2 separate regions of the Homo sapiens genome follow, and region 1 is linked to region 2. The links come from fine-mapping of genetic effects on gene expression. A gene starts in region 2. The other region holds a variant in brackets. All regions are shown on one strand. Distances are between the middles of the regions.

What was found. PIP is the estimated chance that this variant, and not a neighbour inherited with it, causes the effect. A credible set is the group of variants that fine-mapping cannot tell apart.
Region 1: its variant is the best candidate, but not a certain one, in a credible set for the expression of NMB in monocytes after Pam3CSK4 (Quach 2016, PIP 0.67).

The regions. Positions count from the first base shown.
Region 1 is chr15:84,686,638-84,691,637 of GRCh38, forward strand. It overlaps SEC11A (SEC11 homolog A, signal peptidase complex subunit), which reads right to left. Exons shown (of 6, transcript NM_014300.4): 2 at 4,898-5,000; 3 at 988-1,137. Among named protein-coding and RNA genes, the nearest start is that of SEC11A, 27 kb to the right of the region's middle. RefSeq lists an enhancer at 1-350. The variant CAA/C (reference allele first, on the strand shown) is at 2,392.
Region 2 is chr15:84,655,789-84,661,305 of GRCh38, forward strand. NMB (neuromedin B) reads right to left here and starts at 2,411. Exons shown (of 3, transcript NM_021077.4): 1 at 2,208-2,411; 2 at 1,388-1,560. The coding sequence starts at 2,364. RefSeq lists a silencer at 2,367-2,526.

The DNA of each region.
Region 1 (5,000 bases), 31 kb after region 2:
ATGCCTACTCTTTCACTTCTCGTCTGTGTGTCATACAGGATGCCTCCCTTTTCTTTCATTTCTTTCTTTTTTCTTTTTTGAGACAGGGTCTCACTCGGTCGCCCAGGCTGGAGTGCAGTGGCACAAACACGACTCACTGCAGCCTCAAACTCCTGGGCTCACACAATCCTCCCACCTCAGTCCTCCAATTAGCTGGGACTACAGGCACATGCCACTACGCCCAGCTAATTATTTATTTATTTATTTATTTTTTGAGATGGAGTCTGGCTCTGTCGCCCAGGCTGGAGTGCAGTGCTGCAATCTTGGCTCACTGCAACCTCCACCTCCCAGGTTCATGCAATTCGCCTGCCTCAGCCTCCCAAGTAGCTGGGATTACAGGCGCCCACCACCACACCTGGCTAATTTTTATATTTTAGTAGAGACAGGGTTTCACGATGTTAGCCAGGCTGGTCTCGAACTCCTGACCTCAGGTGATCCACCCACCTCGGCCTCCCAAAGTGCTGGGATTACAGGCGTGAGCTACCATGCCTGGCCTTTTTTGGTTTTGTTTTGTTTTAATAGAGAAGGAGTCTCACCATGTTGCCCAGGCTGACCTCAAACTCCTGAGCTCAAGCCATTCTCTCACCTTGGCCTCCCAAAGTACTGGGATTGTAGGCGTGAGCCACTGTGCCCAACCAGAAGATTCTATTTAGGATCTATCTTTATGTCATAGTTTTTTGGAATTATATACAGAGTCACTGACAGGTTGGGAAGTAAAAGGGAACAAAGAAAAACCTCTGGAAAAACCTTCAGGGAAAGAAATGAACTAATAAATAATTATTTACAGTTTTCAAAATGTTCACTAAACTTTCCAGCATTCATAAAAATGGACTGGAAGAAGGCCTAGAGGTTCCTCACTGTTTTACAATCTTTAGGCTATCAAAACTAAATACCACAAACACTTAAACAAAAGCACTTAGAAACAAAGATGCTATACTTTGCACATACTTTTCATGAATCTTCAAGACTCGGTGAACTATAGGAATCTCTCTTCCTTCTATCCTAAAAACAACAATTTCTCCCACTCGTATGGGATCTTCAACTCGATTTGTTAGAAAGAGAAGATCTCCTCTATGAAATGCAGGTTCCATGCTGCCACTGGAAGGGAAAGAAGAATATAACAGCAAAAAGAAAGTATGAGATTAAATGTACTTTCAAAATTAGATATTCAACAAAATAAAAAATATCACTTTGGGAGTATACTCAATACCCTAACAACTATATCAACAGAAATGTGTATTGTTCTCAAAATATGGTTTCCTCAGACTAAAAAGTTACGCCAAAGGATTTTTTTTTAGTTATTAACCTTCACTAACTAGTTCCATTTCAAGTATCACTAGTCAAAGAAGCTTAAATCTTGAAAAGGTCAGTGTTACTAATTCCTTAACCTTTTAAAATTTCAAATGACAAACAGAATATAAAAGAATGAACTTTAAAACAATGCCCTTATTCTCACTTCATCTGAAAACACTAAACATATTCAGATATGCAAATGAGAACTGGATCATCTTCCTCTGCCATTTATAAAGATAACAGCCAAGATGACCTTATATGTTCAACTCATTTAGAAGGAAAAATGGCTCATCAAGTCAAGGAACAGCCAGCTACAGAGATAAAGCTTGTGTTATCAATTTACTTATTTTAAAAAGAGAAAAAAAGAAAACCAAGGAATAAGCAGAGATTTTTGCCTAAGAATTTCCGAAGCCAGGAAAAGATTCAATTCCATGGTAACAAGTAAGACTAACTTCTACAGAGTATCTTCTTACCTCTTACCTCTTCCATCCTACGCCAAGTGCTGAAAAGGTCCTAAGATATTTGCACTAATTTATGAACCCCTTTTTATCTATAAAGAAGTAGCCCATCAGTCTTTTTCAGAAACTCAAGCTCCGGTTTTCTATAACAACAGCTTAAGTAAGAATAGAAAGACAAGAAATAAAGTTCAACGCAGGAATAAGTACAAACTCCAAACACTTTTGTTTAAAGACTCTCTTCCCTCTATGTAAAGGGATATGGCAGTGGGTCTCAAATTTTGCTGCACATTGGAATGACCTGAGGGACTTTTAAAAAATCTCAGCCAGGTGCGGTGGCTCACACCTGTAATTCCAGCACTTCGGGAGGCCGAGGTGGGCAGGTGACCTGAGGTCAGGAGTTCGTGACCAGCCTGATCAACACAGTGAAACCCAGTCTCAACTAAAAATACAAAAATTAGGTGAGCATGGTGGCGCACGCCTGTAATCCCAGCTACTCAGGAGGCTGACGCAGAAGAATCACTTGAACCCAGGAGGTGGAGGTTGAATGGGCTGAGATTGCGCCATTGCACTCCAGCCTGGGCAATACAGTGAGACTCTGTCT[CAA/C]AAAAAAAAAAAAAAGAAGAAGAAGAAAAGAAAAAAAAGAAAAGAAAAGAAACTGGGGGCCAGGCACGATGGTTCAAGCCTATCATCCCAGCACTTGGGAGGTTGAGGGGGGAGGATCACTTGAGATCAGGAGTTCAAGACTCAGTCTCTGTAAAAAAAAAATTAGCCAAGTGTGATGGCACACTCCAGTCTGGGCGATGGAGGGAGGCCCTGTGTTAAATGTTCTTATCACAAAAAAATAGAAAGGGAAGAAACTTTTGAAAGTGATGAATATATTCACTTGCTTGATTGTGATGATGGTTTCACAGGAATATACTTACCTGCAAATTGATCAAGTTGTATACATTAAATATGTACAGCTTTTTGTATGTCAATCATATCTCGATAATTTGGTTAAAAAAGAGTAATCTAAGTACTATTACTTAGGTTCTAGATAATGTTAATGCACTATTATTTAGATTCTAGATAATATTAATAATTCCATTTATTTTAAATATGCACTCCATTATCTCCAGAAAAGATCTGGGCTTACAAAATTAAGCCCAAAATATGACAAAACTGTAATGTTTCTTTTCTTTCTTTTTTTTTTTTTTTTTGAGACAAAATTTCAATTGTCACCCAGGCTGGAGTGCAATGGAGCGATCTCCGCTCACTGCAATCTCCGCCTCCTAGGTTCAAGCAATTCTCCTGCCTCAGCCTCCTGAGTAGCTGGGACTACAGGCGCCTGCCACCACGCCCAGCTAATTTTTGTATTTTTAGTAGAGATGGGGTTTCAACATGCTGGCCAGGCTGGTCTCGAACTCCTAGCCTCAAGTGATCTGCCCGCCTTGGCCTTCCAAAGTGCTGGGATTACAGGTGTGAGCCACCACACCCAGCCTATAATGTTTCAGTCAAACAACCAAGTGGTAATTCTCTAAAAATGAGTTACTAAATTAGGTTTTAAAATCACTAAGAGTGGTTGCGCATGGTGGCTCATGCTTGTAATCCCAGCATGTTGGGAGGCCAAGGTGGGAGGATCCTTGAACCCAGGAGTTCAAGACCAGACTGGGCAACACAGTGAGATCCTATCTGCTACGGTTTGGCTGTGTCCCCACCCAAATCTCATCTTGAATTCCCACGTGTTTTGGGAGGGACCCAGCAGGAGGTAACTGAATCATGGGGCAGGTTTTTCCTGTGCTGTTCTAGTAACAGTGAATAAGTCTCACGAGATCTGATGGTTTTAAAAAGGGGAGTTCCCCTGCAAAAGCTCTCTTCTCTTGTCTGCCGCCATGTGAGACCTGCCTTTCACCTTCTGCCATGATTGTGGGGCCTCCCCAGTCACGTGGAACTGTAAGTCCAGTAAACCTCTTTCTTTCGTAAATTGCCCAGTCTTGGGTACGTCTTTATCAGCAGCATGAAAATGGACTAATACACCGTCTCTACAAAAAAATTAAAAAATTAACCAGGCATGGTGGGGCAGGCCTGCAGTCCCACCTGCTCAGGAGGCTAAAATGGAAGGATCCCTTGAGACCGGTAGGTGGAGTCTGCAGTGAGTTATGACGGCGCCACTGCACTCTATCCTGGGTAACAGAGCGAGACCCCATCTTTAAAAAAAATATTCACTAAGAGTATGAGTGCAAAGATAGGGAAGGAAGCAGAGTGGAGAAAAAAAATTCAGTACTATTTGTCACCATAAGAGATGGTATTAATGCCTTCAAAATTCCTGGAGTCTAGTTTAGAAGTGATATTTAAAGGTCAGCAGGAAACTTGGAAATAATTAGTGATGATTCTATCCTGACATTGAGAACATGCTACAGAAAAACTCTTAATTTGTGGAAGTACTATAACATCTAATGAACTAACAACTAAATATCAGGCCTGGTGTATCAAAATGAGGAATATAAAAAGACAGAAGAATTTCAGGAAAATAAAGTACAACGAGACACTTTATTAAGGGATGTGACAAAAACAAACCTTAACATGGTAACTTTTTTGTAGAAAGGTCATGAGCCCTTTGGAGTTCTGAATGGAAATGCCTAACAAAGTAAGAATTTCTTTTCTCTCTTTTTTTTTTTTTTTTTGGAGACAGGGTCTCGCTCTGTCACCCAGGCTGAAGTGCAGTGGTGCAATCACAACTCACTGCAGGCCTCAACCTCTAGGGCTTAGGTGATCCTCCCACCTCAGCCTCCCGAGTAGCTGAGACTACAGGTCCATGCCACCACACCCGCTAATTTTTGTATTTTTTGTGGAGACAGGGTTTCACCACGTTGCCCAAGCTAGTCTCAAATTCCATAGCTCAAGTAATCCACCGGCCTCAGCATCCCAAATTGGTGGGATTACAGGCATAAGCCACCGTGCCCAGCCTGAGAATTTCTTACAACTGATAAGTAGTGACTAATTTTCTTCCAGGCCCTTTTCTGGAAAAGAGTAGTTTCTAAGAGAATGATATGCCAGTTATTTCATATCTCAATTTTTCTCCCAAGTAATGCCATGCAATTCCATGCCTTGAAAGGAAAAACTGTTACCTGAGCACCACTACAATCGGACTTTCACTTCCAGTTATTACCATTAACCCCTTCCAGATCATTAGTGCCGATGAGACAATCATTCCAAAATTTAGGACTTGAT
Region 2 (5,517 bases):
CAAAACCAAGGGCATTAGAGGTGACATTGTTTCCCTTCAGACTCAGCCAGCCCAAGCTCCTAGGCCTTACATCTGAGGTCCTCAGGGGCTGCTGGTTCTGTGCCTCAGGAAGTCAGGGATGTTGGTTGAGGCTGGGTTGGACCTTTTCTAGGGAATGCCTCTCCCTTCAAAATGCACACACTATATGCTAGGCACACTGGGGGATATGAAGGCGAGTCTACAACAGGTGCCGCCAGGGAGCTCACAGACTGATAAGAGCTCGCATCTACTAAGGGCTGTCTATGAGCCAGGCACCATGCTGAGCATTTGACATAAATGGTCTCATTTAATGGGAGATGGGCCTTATTATCTTCATTTTATGGGTGAAGAATATTGAGGCTTTAGAGAAGTTAAGGGACATTTCTAAGGTCATACAGCTACTAAGTAGCTAGGTTATGAGCCCAGCACGTTGTAGTCAAAACCCACATTCTACCACATCACACTGCCTTCTGCACACAGCAGCAGGACCAGGGAGGGTGGTGTGCAGTAAGGACAGCACCAGGAGCAGGGAATGAAGGAGTTGCCACTCAGCGGGGCTATACCTTGAGGCTAGCTTGGCTCCAGCTTTGGAGTCTTGAATCCCATAGATCAGTGACTGACAACCAATAATGATTTGGGGCCCTCTCCCCCAGCAGACATCTGGTGATGTCTGGAGGTCTTTTCAGTTGTCACAACTTGATGGGGGGGAAAGATGCTACTGGCATCTAGTATGTAGAGACCAGGGATGCTGCCAAACATCCCATGATGCACACGTCAGCCCTCACAAGAAACAGTGATTCAGCCTAGAACGTCAAATGTACTGAAGTTGCTAAACCCTACCACTGGATACTGAGGCAGATGAGAGAATGGGAAGAGCTCCAGTCCAGGTGAACAAGGTCCAGACTCTGTCTTGGCTGCTGACTTCTCTTTCCCTCTCTGGGCCTCAGGGTCCCATTCCGGCCACAAGCATACACAGGACACAGCAAAGGTGGACTTGACTAATGCAGCAGGGAACAGCATGGGTGGGACAAGACTGTGTAGACTGGGGGAGAAAGGTCCTGCTCCAAAAGGCTGATGATCCCAGTCTGTTACTTTAGACTGGGTGATGAGTCAGGGGAACTTCTTTCCCTACTTCTTGCCCCATGGGGTCTACTGGGAAGGTCAGCTTCCTTTCTTTGGACTGTTCCTCCTTTGAGCTCTGCCTCAAGAGGGAAAAGCCTGGAAACCTGGCTTTCTGGGGTCCACACCCATAATGTCCTAGTCAGACAGTCACACCCTAATACAGTACTGGGTGGTAATTCCTCCCATGCAGGATCCGGGGATGGCCCCAGCTGGGCCCTCCTGACATTGGAGCAGGGGCCCGGCTCACCTGGATTTGGGGTGCGGGGCGGCTGAGGCTCACGCCCAGAGCCTTCTTTAGCAGGAGGATTCCGAGCAGATCATGACTCAGCTGCAGTCGCTGGTCCCTCAGGGAGGTGTGGGGAGCTGTCCCCAATGGGGATGGGCTGGAAGGCTCCAGACTCTTCTTGCCCATGAAGTGACCTGGAAAGGAGGTGTCCAGGCACAAGGAAGTCAAGCAGCCAGGATCCTACCTCAGAGGAAAAGTTCCTCATCTCTCCCACGTTTCCGTTCTTGTAGCGGGAAGACACTTAACCTTCCTCCTCTTGGTGCTTCCACCTCACCAAGGAGCCACAAAGGTGTCTGGGTGGTGGCAAAGCCTGCTCCCTCAGCTTTTCCTGAACAGGTAGAGAGGATGGCACAGCTGGCAGGAAGGTGGGATGGTCCAGGGCCAGGGAGAAACTCTGCTAGTTGTGTGGGCTGCTTGGACAAGGGACGAAAAAGGGCAGGGTAGGAAGTGGAGAGTGAAGAGGCGCCTGGAAAGTGGAGGTGCAGCAAAAACACACCAGCGGTTAGAAGATTCGGTTAAGTCTCGCCTAAGGTAAGGGGCACCGGCTGGCAGTGGGATTTAGGATCTAGCCCAGCCCTGTCTTAAACTGGCTGCGCGACCTTAGCCAAGTCACTGACCTGTCCGGGTCTCAAGTACATATCTATTAAATTAGATGAGCCCCAGGGTTTTCCACCTGCTCCGACACTAGTGTCCGTGGCTGAGGAGCGGCCAGAGGGTTGAGAAGGAAATGGGGTCTGAACTGGATGAGGGGCGCTTGCTTGCTCCGTCCCCAAAGACTTACCGGTGGCCCAGAGGTTGCCTCGCGAGTGCACTCGGATCTTGCTGGCTCGGCTGCGGGGCTCCGGGAGATCCCAGCTGAGCGGGGCGACGCCGGCAGCGAGCAGGGCGAAGAGCAGGAGGCTGCCGAACATCCGAGCGCCCCCCGCCCGCCGGGCCATGGCTGTGCCCGGGCCGCGGCTTCGTTCGGGCGCGCTTCCCGGCCGCTGGGCTCCGGGGCTGCCTTCGATCCTTTTAAATCCGCGCCCCTGGGGGCGGAGCCTGCCCTGAGCAGCGGAGCCGTGCCCCGCGCCCGCCGCCCTCCCCGCCGTCCCCACCCTCCCGCTAGGTTACCAGGCAGGGGCACCCCCTTTGGGCCGCCCAGAGACCTGCACACCCACACTCTGGCCCGCACGCGGGCACCGCTTCCGCCAGGGGCTTCTGGCGGAAGCCCGCCACCTTCAGGCTAAGGACCGGGCACCGGCCAAACAGGGGCCCGGCCCCGGCGGCGGAGCCGCTTCCCCTGGCCCTGCCTTGCCACTCTGCCACGGCTTTCGGCCAAATAGGCACTTCAGCCCTCTGAGCCTCTCTTCATGAGGGTAGAGGTCGGGCGAGGAGCTCTCCTCCCGGGTAACAGGCTTTTTTTTTTTTTTTTTTTTTTTTTTCTGAGACAGGATCTGGCAGTATCGCGCAGGTTGGAGTGCGGTGGCGCGATCACGGCTCACTGCAAACTCAACCTCCAGGGCTGGGCTCAAGCCTCAGCCTCCCCAGAAGCTGGGACCACAGGCACACGCCTTCATGCCTGGCTTTTTTTTTTTTTCTTTCCAAGAGACTGGATGTCGCTAGGTTTCCCAGGCTAACAGAGGCATTTTTACAGTGTCCAGCCAAGTGCTAGGCACCAAAGGACTTCCATAAACTAATCCCCATCACCTCCGCCCTTTGGGGGAATCTGACCCGTGTTCACCTTGCTCTCTGCCCTCTCACAGCCAGCATCACAGTCTGGAAATGTTCTGGCACACAGTAGGTGCTCAGAATGGGAATGCAGAATGATGGAGGGTGGGACAAAGGGCCGCTTCTGAGGAACGGGCATCCAGCTGGAGGGCCTGGCTTATGGGCAGGAAGCAGACCTCTGGGTCAAGAAAGTGGAAAGAGCACTGCACCCAGGACTGCACTGCACCCAGGAGTCCATGTACAAGCTGTGACCCGGCTGAACCTCACTTTCTTCAACTGTAAAATGGTAATAACCACACTGCCCTAATTTTAATACTTTTACATGTTTTAGCATAAGTACTCTGTGGCCGGAAGCAACAATTCTGTAGGACCTGCCCTCTCACACCTGGCACTTTGTTCTCCCCAGGAGCTGTCTGGACTTTCTTGGAAAGAACTTCTGGATAAGTGGTATCATATAATGAGCAGAGGAAAACACTGTGCTCCAGAAGAATACATTTATGTTTGCTTAATTAACTGAAACCCATTGTTCAGAGCACTACACTAGACACAAGAAGAGGGGCGACAGATAATTCCTTGCTCCCAAGGGAGTTAACCATCTCATTGGAGAGACAAGTACACAAAGGAGAGAGTGATGGAGGAGCGGGGGTGCAGACCACCCCTTGGACTCTGGATACCTCTGGAACACGGAACAGAGTGGCCGTACCAGAACCTACTCCCATCTGGCTTGATAATGGGACCTGCTTCTAGGACTCTTGCTTAGTATCTAGCTCAGCAAGGTTGCTAGCTCTGTGGATCCTCATCCTAGAAGGGGAAGCTCACATGAAAAACTGGCTGTCATACCCAGCTGGAGGCCCAGCTTCCAGGAGCATGACACACAGGACAGGGACGTTTCATTTCTGGCCCTGGCTTTCCCCCCAATCTCCTTGCTTCTCACCTCCCACCCTGGCATTTACACCTCTCTGCTTTCTTGTCACAGCTTAGCCATGGTGTACAGATATAGCTCTTATCACCTTCCGGTAATCATTCCTTTGTGACCCCCCTCCCTCTCCTCTGCATCCATCAAACCCCCATCCTATCTTCTCTAGTCCATGGATAATAGAAATTAGCGTGAACACACAGAAGCTGGTATTGATTGAGTGCTGCATCACTTAAATGCTTGAAGGAATCTTATTTGGTAGGTTTCTGTCTCCTCATTTTTATAGGTGGGAACAGGCTAAGAGGTTTAGCCACTTTCCCAGAAGTCCCACTGGAATCAGATTTCAGGTCTGTCTGGACCACTGCATCAGGCCCCCAAATCTATGCAGGGCAGATACAACTCTCCCTAAACCACACCCACTCCCATTGTACCATCTCAAATTTCAACACCAAGTTGTGTTTATGTATCTCAGGAGGGAGAGGGAGTGGGCACTGCATTTCGAGTTTCACCTCTCTTCCACAGGTGACTGGACCTTGAGTTCTGCTAAGGTTATTTATACTTAAGCCAAGCTTCCTCTGACACAGCCTGGGTTCACAGCTGCAGCCACAGCTCTGAGGCTGGCCCCAGGCACCCTTGGAACCATTTGCTCTGTCAGCCTACTATAGAAAAAAAAGGGGGGGGGCCTCTGAGGACCCTGGAGAAAACAGCAGGGGAGCACCTCCACAGACTTAGGAGCACTCACCTTAGGGAAAAAAATGGGAGGCACAGGGGAGAAGGTGGCTTGCTCAAGGGAGTGCTAGGCTCTAAGTTTAGCATGAGGACCTCAAATGCCAACTGCCTGTTCCCTAAGTCCACTCTGGTGGCAAGAGAAGTCCAAAGGCCTCCACTCCATGGGGAAAGGCTAGCATTGAATTGAATGGAGGTACGTGGGGAAGCTCTTCAGAACCCACTCTCGACCCTCCTAGGATTCTACAACATTCAAGGACATGCACAGAAAATGTGAGGCAGGTTCACAAAACAACCCATGGGGTAACTAAAAGGGTGAAAGATACATGGCAAATCCTATCATAGCTAACACCAGGAAAATATTTAAAGTACACCAAGTTTTTTAATAAAAAAATTGCTTCATCAAAAATAGCGATTAAGAATGGATATTACAGCCGGGAGCCAGGGCTCGCACCTATAATCTTAGCACTTTGGGAGGCTGAGATGGGCGGATCACCTGAGGCAGGAGTTCGAGACCAACCTGGCCAACATGGTGAAACCTCATCTCTACTAAAAATACAAAAATTAACCGGGCGTGATGGCAACGCACCTGTAATCCCAGGTACTCAGGAGGCCGAGGAAGGAGAATCACTTGAACCTGGGAGGTCAGGGCGGCAGTGAGCCAAGATCGCACTACTGCACTCCAGCCTGGGCAACAAGTGCAAAACTCCGCCACAAAAAAAAAAAAAAAGAAAGAAAGAAA